2 separate regions of the Homo sapiens genome follow, and region 1 is linked to region 2. A link means that fine-mapping ties the variant in region 2 to the expression of a gene that starts in the linked region. Tissue or cell type: lung. Region 2 holds a variant in brackets; the other region holds the start of a gene. All regions are shown on one strand. Distances are from middle to middle.

Region 1 (4,395 bases), 62 kb after region 2:
CTCGCCACCATGCCCGGCTAATTTTTTGTATTTTTTTAGTAGAGACAGGGTTTCACCATGTTGGCCAGGCTGGTCTCAAACTTCTGACCTCTGGTGATCCACCCACCTCGGCCCCCCAAAGTGCTGGGATTACAGGTGTGAGCCACCGCACCCGACCCATAATAAAAATACCTTGGAGGTGTGTTTCTTGTAAATGAGTGGCTAATTTCCCAACACCCTGTAAAAGTATATGGGTAAAAAGAAACTGAAAATCATCATGCAACCAGAGTTAACAACTATCTTGCAAAATTCATATCATTTGTTTTAAAACCAAAATAGCAAGGAAGAGCTGGTGTTATCCCAATAGCCTCTTTTTAATTGGTCTACAACAACTGCAACTCTTCATAACTTTACCAACACAACAAAGTCAGGCAGGCAGTCTGACAGAGTCAACGTTTGTGGGAACCTACAGCGCTTCCTTCTCTCTCTGGAGATGAGGACAATGAAAAAAGGTGTTCTGTTTTCCAGTAGTCCTGTAAGAGGAGCCATTGAGCTGGGCTGTACAACCAGACAACAGAACACAGGAAAATTCACATCAAAGCAAGGGCGCATGCCAGGGTAATATGCAATAAAACCCTCTGCCAAAGCATTAAGGGGAAAAAAAAGCAAGGAGGTAGAGAGAACCTGCTGGACTACCTTCTCATTAACACAGGGAGGCAGAAAGAAACAAAATCTGCCTGTATTCAGGAGCGGAGAAAACTGTGTCCTAGATATATTGGAGTATTCCTATAGACATGTTTATGAGCATTCGGACAAATTATCAATGAACTAAACCCAGAAAGCAGTGTCCTGTACGGTGGAGTATTCCTATGTAGACAGACATGAGAATCTTACCATTAACTAAGCCCAAAAAGGCAAAGTATTCTAGAAACACAGATATATGAGAATTTAGATGCACATTTCCAATGAATAAAACCCACTGGTTTTACAGTGAGAAAAAACTGTTTGAAATAACATCAGGTAAAGAATTGGGTAAAGGTGTGATGAAGTTATATCCCCTCCCCTTTTCCTCATACCCTTTTTGACAATCTCTGATTCTCTCATTTCATAGATGTCCCTTTCACTTGAATGCGCACACACACACACACACACACACACACACACACACACATCATTAGGTCTCCAGAAACAAAGGAGGGTCCTTAATTCTCCGGCCTGTGGAACCACACACGCCCCCTGCCCACAGATGGTGACTTTCATTAATGAGTAAGCCGAGGGAAGAGGTCTCCACCCCGACCACTGCCATGCACACTGTGACAACGGGGCACGAGACAAGCGCCACAAAGAAAGGGGAGGAGTGGACGGGGACCAGGAAAACACTGCCACGCCGCACCCCCCAAGGCGCGCGCCCACCGCCAACGCGGGGGCAGCGTCCTCGCCATCCTCCTCCTAGCCTCCCAGCTCATCCCAGCCGCCTCCCACGCCCGGGGACCCGATGCCAGGGCTTGGGCGAGCAGGACGTGCGGGGGCCCACGCACCTTCCCTCCGTGATCTCCAGGTGACAGCCCCGCTCCGCCCTTTGTGAGGGACTCACCCTCCAGTCCCGGGGCCGCGCCGGACCCTCCTCCGCGTCCCTCCTCAGCCTGGAGACACCGCCTCACCCCTGCACACCGCGCCCGGCCGGCCGAGGCGCCGGGAGAGTGTGTGTGTGTGGGAGGCTGGCGCGGGCCCGCGGTCTCCTCAGCATCCCGAACCCGGAGCGGCTCGGTCCCCCAAACCCCAGCCCGGGGGCGGCGGCCGCGGCGCTCCCGCCCTCGCTCGCTCACTTACTCGGGCGCGCCGGTGGCAGCGGCAGACGTGCGGGACCGTCAGCGCCCTGCGGCGGGCGGCAGGCTGCGGGCGGCGAGCGTCCGTCCGGACAGAGCGCGGCGGAGGTGGCGGCGGCTGACTGCGCCCGGCGGCCCCTCGCGAGGGGCGGGCCCGCCGGGGGAGGGGCGGGCGCCGCGCCTCTCATTCATGCAGCGGGGGCGGGGTGAGGGACCCGGATGCCCGGGCAGTTTCCCCACCCACCTCGGCGGAGGGCTCGGCGGCTTCAGAGTCTGCAGTGCGCAGGCGCGGCGCTCCCTGGCCAGGCCTGGTGCGGCCCTGGCCGCTGGCTCTGTTCCTGGTTAGAACTACGCCAGACAGGCCGGGCGAGGTGGCTCACGCCTGTAATCCCAGCACTTTGGGAGGCTGAGGCGGGCAGATCACGAGGTCAGGAGATCGAGACCATCTTGGCTAACGCGATGAAACCCCGTCTCTACTAAAAATACAAAAAATTAAATTAGCCGGGTGTGGTGGCGGGCGCCTGTAGTCCCAGCTACTTGGGAGGCTGAGGCAGGAGAATCGCCTGAACCTGGGAGGCGGAGCTTGCAGTGAGCCGAGATCGTGCCACTGCACACCAGCCTGGGCGACAGAGCGAGACTCTGTCTCAAAAAAAAAAAAAAAAAACAACTACTCCAGACAGACCTTCTCCATCGACCGTTTAGTATTTTTGCGTGCCCTACAAGCATTTTTAAAAGTGAAAGCATGGGGCCGGGCGCAGTGGCTCACGCCTGTAATCCCAACACTTTGGGAGGCCAAGGCGGGTGGATCACCTGAGGTCAGGAGTTCCAGACCAGCCTGACCAACATAGAGAAACTCTGTCTCTACTAAAAATACAAAATTAGCTGGGTGTGGTGGCTCATGCCTGTAATCCCAGCTACTCGGGAGGCTAAGGCAGGAAAATCTCTTGAACCCGGGGAGCGGAGGTTGCAGTGAGCCAAGATCGCACCATTGCACTCCAGCCTGGGTGACAGAGCAAGACTCCGTCTCACACACAAAAAAATGAAAGATTGGAATGCCACCCCTTTCCTAGCATGCAGATTGACAGTCCCCAGAGACACAAGAATGGTCACGTGGTGCCCATTGGTTTGATGGGGAGATGGTATGCACCGCACCCTCCTCCATCTGCCCCTCCTGCTGCAGCCTCTCAGCTGAGTGCTAGAACCTTGGTGATGGATGAGACCTAGACTCTGCCCAGATAGTGGAGAGAGGTGTGTGCAAGAAACAGTGCATTCCTTTATTTACATCCACTCCTCAACCTCCGGCTCCCATTCTACAGGGCAGGCAATAAATTGACCTCCGATTTTGGGAGGCTGAGCTCTTCCTGCAATACCAAGGCAAGGATCTGGGGAGTCCTCTCTTGTCTTTAGCAGGCAGTGTATTCTGCAGATACTCTCTTGTTCCCATCGCCTTGTGTCTGCCACTCCTGGGGTACGGAAGTTTCTGGAGAGGCTAGGAGCCTGCAGAGGGAATGGCTGTGAAGCTCCACAGCTGACTGTGTGTGCGCTGCAGCTCAGAGCTTGCAAAAATGATTGCCCCCTCTTCCTCAGTCTCCATGTGTCCCCCAGAAGTTCTCCTTCCTTCTCCTAATCTCTCAGGCCCCATCACATAAACCATAAACAGCTCAGTAGCTTAACTTTGGGAAGCAAAAGTCATCATGGCAAGCGCCTAGAGGCATGTTCCTTCTGCTTTGGCAAACCATTAACCACCAAGGCAGGGAGGAAGTAAAGAGGGAAACATTAGTGAATTTCTCAAGAAGTCACCTGCCACCCAATGGTCACAGTCCCCCAAAGTGAGAGAAGGGTGGAGGCATGTGCTAGGGAGACTGTGGCAAAAGGAAGGGAGTGGGAGACCCAGGCTTCCTCTAGAGCTGCCTGTGCCAGGGCTGTGCTGGGGGAACACTGCCCTCCTTGCTGTCAATCATAGCAGTTACCTGGAGGGTCTTTTCAACTTTGCTTTGCTCAAACCTCTCACTGTTCTAAATCAGCCCCCTCATCTCTCCCCTGGGCTGTTGCAGAAGTCTCAATCCATTCTCATGCAAATCGATTCTCATGGTATTCAAATCTGCCTGTGTTTCTGTCTTTTTCTTTTTCCCTGCCCCATCTGGCTCCTTGAGCCTTATTTTCCAGCCATTTACAGAACAGCACCATGGTGTTTCACCTCAGTAGTCACCAAGGTGACTGCTGTTTCCTGCTGTTCCCCTACTAGGAAAGCAATACTTACCTAGCATGCAAAAGTTGCTCTTTTCTCTGAAAATCCACAGATGCTTTTTAGGGCAGTGAAAATACTCTGTGTATGATACCATAATGGTGGATACCTGTCATGACACATTTGTCTAAATCCATAGAATGAATAATACCAGCAGCAAACTCTAATGTAAACATGGATTTTGGGTGATAATGATGTGCCAATGTAGGTCCAACAATAGTAATAAATGCTCCCGTGGGAGAATGTTTATAATGGGGGGGCTATGTATGTGTAGGGGGGAAGGGCTAGTTGGGAACTCTGCACATTCCTCTCACTTTTGTGGCAAACTTAAAACTGCTCTAAAAA
Region 2 (4,395 bases):
CCAAGGAACCCTAATTCCTTTTATTGGAGAAAAGTATTTAGAACTTGAGATCTGGGTGCTTGGTGAACAGCACTTTCTCTTAATACTGTTGCTTTAAAACAGGTTTTGGGGTCTGGTAGCAAAAGTCCTCAAGTTTTATTCTTTTGAATGACTGGCTTGGTTATTCTTGGTTCTCTGCAGTTCCATATAGATTTCAATTTCCACCAGAAAAAAAAAAAAACCCTCTTGGGGTTTTGAGTAAGAATGTACAAAATTCACAGACCAACTGAGGAAGAACTGACATCTTTGCAAGACTGAGTGTCTAACCTATGAACATTATTTCTTTATTTACAGCTTTAATTTTTCTCTTACACATTTCTCCTAGACATTTGGTAATTTTTGATGCTACTGTAAATAGTGTTGAAAAAAATCTTTATTTTCTAATTATTTCTTGCTACCTATATGGAAAAAAGTAATTTTTGTATATTGATCCTGTATCTGGTGGCTTGCTAATTCTAAATAGTTTCTCTGTAAAAACTTTTGGATTTTTTAATGTACACAATTATGTTGTCTGCATATAATCACAATTTAAACACTGCCTTTATAATCTTTATTTGCTTCTTTTCTAAATACACTTTTCTTTTATTCTTTTTTCCCGTTTTTTTTTTTTTGCACTGACTAGCTAGGCCCTCCAGTATGATGCTAAATAAAAGTGATAGTGAATGTCCCTATCAATACATCACTATTAAGTATGATGTTTTCTTTAGATATTTTTTGTAGATACTCTTTCAAATTTTAGAAAGTTCTCTTGTAGTACTAGTTTACCAAAAAAAATCATGAATAGGTATTAAATTTTATCAATGCTTTATGATATTATACTATTAATGTGCTATATTGTATTGATTGCTTTTCAAATGTTAAAATAACTCTCGTTCTTGGAACAAACCTCATTTGGTTGTAATATTCTACCTTTTTTGTAGATCCCTGAATTTGATTTACAATATTTTGCTGATGAAAAGGATCGGTCTATAATTTCCTTTCTCATAATATCCTTGTCAGGCTTTGAAATCACAATTATGCTGGCCTCATGAAATGAGCTGAGAAGTATTTGTTCCACTTTTATTCTCTGGAAGTGTCATATTGGAGTGGTATTTTTTTCCTTAAATGTTTGGATGAGTTACTTGGCTTAAAATATCATTGTGGGAATGTTTTAAAAATACATTCAATTTTCCTTTCTTTTCTTTTGGAGACGGAGTCTCACTCTGTCACCCAGCGTGGAGTGCAGTGCGTGATCTCGGCTCACTGCAAGCTCCGCCTCCTGGGTTCACGCCATTCTCCTGCCTCAGCCTCCCGAGTAGCTGGGACTACAGACACCCGCCACCACGCCCGGCTAATTTTTTTTGTAGTTTTAGTAGAGACGAGGTTTCACCATATTAGCCAGGATGGTCTCCATCTCCTGACCTTGTGATCTGCCTGCCTCAGCCTCCCAAAGTGCTGGGATTACAGCATGAGCCACCGTGCCTGGCCCAAAACACATTCTCTCTTTTTTTTTTTTTTTGAGACGGAGTCTTGCTCTGTTGCCCAGGCTGGAATGCAGTGGCGCAATCTCAGCTCACTGCCACCTCCGCCTCCCAGGTTCAAGCAAGTCCCCTGCCTCAGCCTCCCATGTAGCTGGGATTACAGACACATGCCACCACGCCCGGCTAATTTCTGTATTTTAGTAAAGATGGGGTTTCACCATGTTGGCCAAGATGGTCTCGATCTCCTGACCTCGTGATCTGTCTCTTTTTCGTATTAGATATATAATTATTCATATTTTCAATTTCTTGTAGTAGTTTTTTTTTTTTTTTGAGACAGAGTCTCACTCTGTCGCCCAGGCTGGAGTACAGTGGCACAATCTTGGCTCACTGCAACCTCCACCTCCCGGGTTCAGGTGATTCTCTTGTTTCAGCCTCCTGAATAGCTGAGAATACAGGTGTGTGCCACCACGTCCAGCTAATTTTTATATTTTTAGTAGAGATGGGGTTTCACCATGTTGGCCAGGCTGGTCTCGAACTCCTGACCTCAGGTGATCCCCTGCCTCAGACTCCCAAAGTGCTGGGATTACAGGAGTGAGCCACCATGCCCGGCCCCGGTTTTTTCTTTTTAAAAATTTCATTCTTTTATTTTTACTCACATTACAACTAACCGCCTT[C/A]AAGTATACAATTCAGTGGTAAGTAGTGTACTCACAATGTTGTCCATCTACCAGCTATCTCTAGTTTCAAAATTTTTCATCACTCCAACAAAACACCTGGTACCCCATTCACTGATCACTCCCCATTACCCCTTACTTCTATCCCCTGCAACCTCTTATCTGCTTTTTGTCTCTATAGATTTGCCTATTATGGATATATCATATAAAAGGAACAATGCAATATATGGCCTTTTGTGTATGGCTTTCCACCTAGCATGTTTTTGAGGTTCATCCTGGTTGTAGTATGTATCAGTACTTCACTTCTTTTTATGGCTGAATAATATTCCATTGTATGTACATACAATTATCCATTCATCTGTCGATGGACATTTGGGTTGTTTATACCTTTTGGCTATTATGAAACATTTCTGTACACGTTTCTGTGTGGACATATATTTTCATTTGTCTTGGGTATATACCTAGGAATGAAAATCTGGGTCACATGGTTTAATATTTTGAAGAACTGGCCAGGTATGGTGGCTCATGCCTGTAATCCCAGCACTTTGGGAGGCTGAGGCAGGTGGATCATGAGGTCAGGAGTTCAAGTCTGGCCAACATAGTGAAACTCCGTCTCTACTAAAAATACAAAAAATTAGCTGGGTGTGGTGGCAGGCGCCTGTAATCCCAACTACTTGGGAGGCTGAGGCAGGAGAATTGCATGAACCTGGGAGGCAGAGATTGCAGTGAGCCGAGATCGCGCCATTGCACTCTAGCCCGGGTGACAGTGCGAGACTCCATCTCAAGAAAAAAAAAAAAGAATTTGTTTGAAGATCCACCAAACTCTTTTTCACAGCAGCTGCATCATTTTGCATTTCTACCAGCAATATATGCAAGTTCTTATTTCTCCACATCCTCATTAACACTTGTTATTTTTCTGTTTTTGATTACAGCATCCTAGTAGGTGTGAAGTGGTATCTCATTGTGTTTTTAATTTGGAATTCCTTAATGACCAATAATGTCAAACATCTTTTCATGTGCTTGTTGGCCATTTGTGTAACTTCTTTGGAGAATTGTTTAAGTCTTTTGCCCATTTTTAAATTGGGTTGTCTTTTTGCTGTTAAATTTTAAGAGCTTTTAATATATTCTGGGTATTAAACCCTTATCAGATAGGACTTGTAAATATTTTTCTCCCATTCTGTAGGTTGCCTTATCACTTTCTTGATGTCCTTTGATGTACAAATGTTTCGCATGTTAATATCCAGCTTCCCAGTACCATTGGTTGAAGAAACAATTCTTTCCCCATTGAATGATCTTGGCACCCTTATTTGCATATCAATTTGTCATAGATGTTTGGATTTATTTCTGGACTCTCAATTCTATTTTATTGGTTTATATGTCTATCTTTATACCAGTACCACAATTTTTTGATTACAGTAGCTTTCTGAAGTTTTGAAATCAGGAAGTGTGAGTCCTTCTATTTGTTTTTCTTTTTCAAAACTGCTTTGGCTATTTGGGGCCCCAGTTCCAAATGAATTTGAGGATTGCTTTTTCTATTTCTGTAAAAAAAGGCCATTAGAATTTTGATAGGGATTGCACTGAATCTGTAGATTGCCTTGGAAAATATTGACACTGTAACTATATAAAGACGATATAAATCCATGAACATGGGGTGCCTTTACATTTATTTAGGTCTTCTTTAATTTCTTTCAGCAATGTTTTGTAGTTTTCAGGGTATAAGTCTTTCACTTCCCTGGTTAACTTTATTCCTTAAAATTTTATTCTTTTGGATGCTATTGTAAATGGGATTGTTTCCTTTATTTCCTTTTCAGATTGTTCATTGTTGATGCACAGAAACACAACTGATTTTTGTGTATTGATCTTAGACTCTGAAAGTTTGCTGAATTTATTAGTTCCAGTAGTTTTTTTTGTGTGTGTGTGGATCCTACGGGATTTTCTCTGTATAGGATCATATCATCTGCAAATGGAGATAGTTACTTCTTTCTAGTTAGATGCCTTCTATTTCTTTTTCTTGCCTAATTGTTCTGGCTAGAACTTCCAGTACAATGCTGAACAGTAGTGGTAAAGTGGGCATTCTTATTGTGTTCTGATCTTAGGGGAAAGCTTTCCGTCTATTACCAGAAAGTACAATGTTAAGTTGTGTGTGTGTTTTTTTTTTTTTAATAAATGCCCTTTCTTGTGTCAGTTTTGATACACCTCTTTTTTTGTTAGGAATCTATGTAATT

The links.
Region 1: it holds the start of RNF24, and the variant in region 2 is fine-mapped to the expression of RNF24 in lung (TOPMed, PIP above 0.99). The same link has a PIP of 0.9 or more in blood mononuclear cells.

Annotation. Positions count from the first base shown.
Region 1 is chr20:4,013,628-4,018,022 of GRCh38, forward strand. It overlaps RNF24 (ring finger protein 24), which reads right to left and starts at 1,931. Exons shown (of 6, transcript NM_001134337.3): 1 at 1,810-1,931. RefSeq lists a silencer at 1,438-2,037 and enhancers at 1,921-2,853, 3,057-3,658.
Region 2 is chr20:3,951,946-3,956,340 of GRCh38, forward strand. All of the region lies in intron 2 of RNF24 (ring finger protein 24), which reads right to left. Among named protein-coding and RNA genes, the nearest start is that of MIR103B2, 37 kb to the left of the region's middle. The variant C/A (reference allele first, on the strand shown) is at 2,174.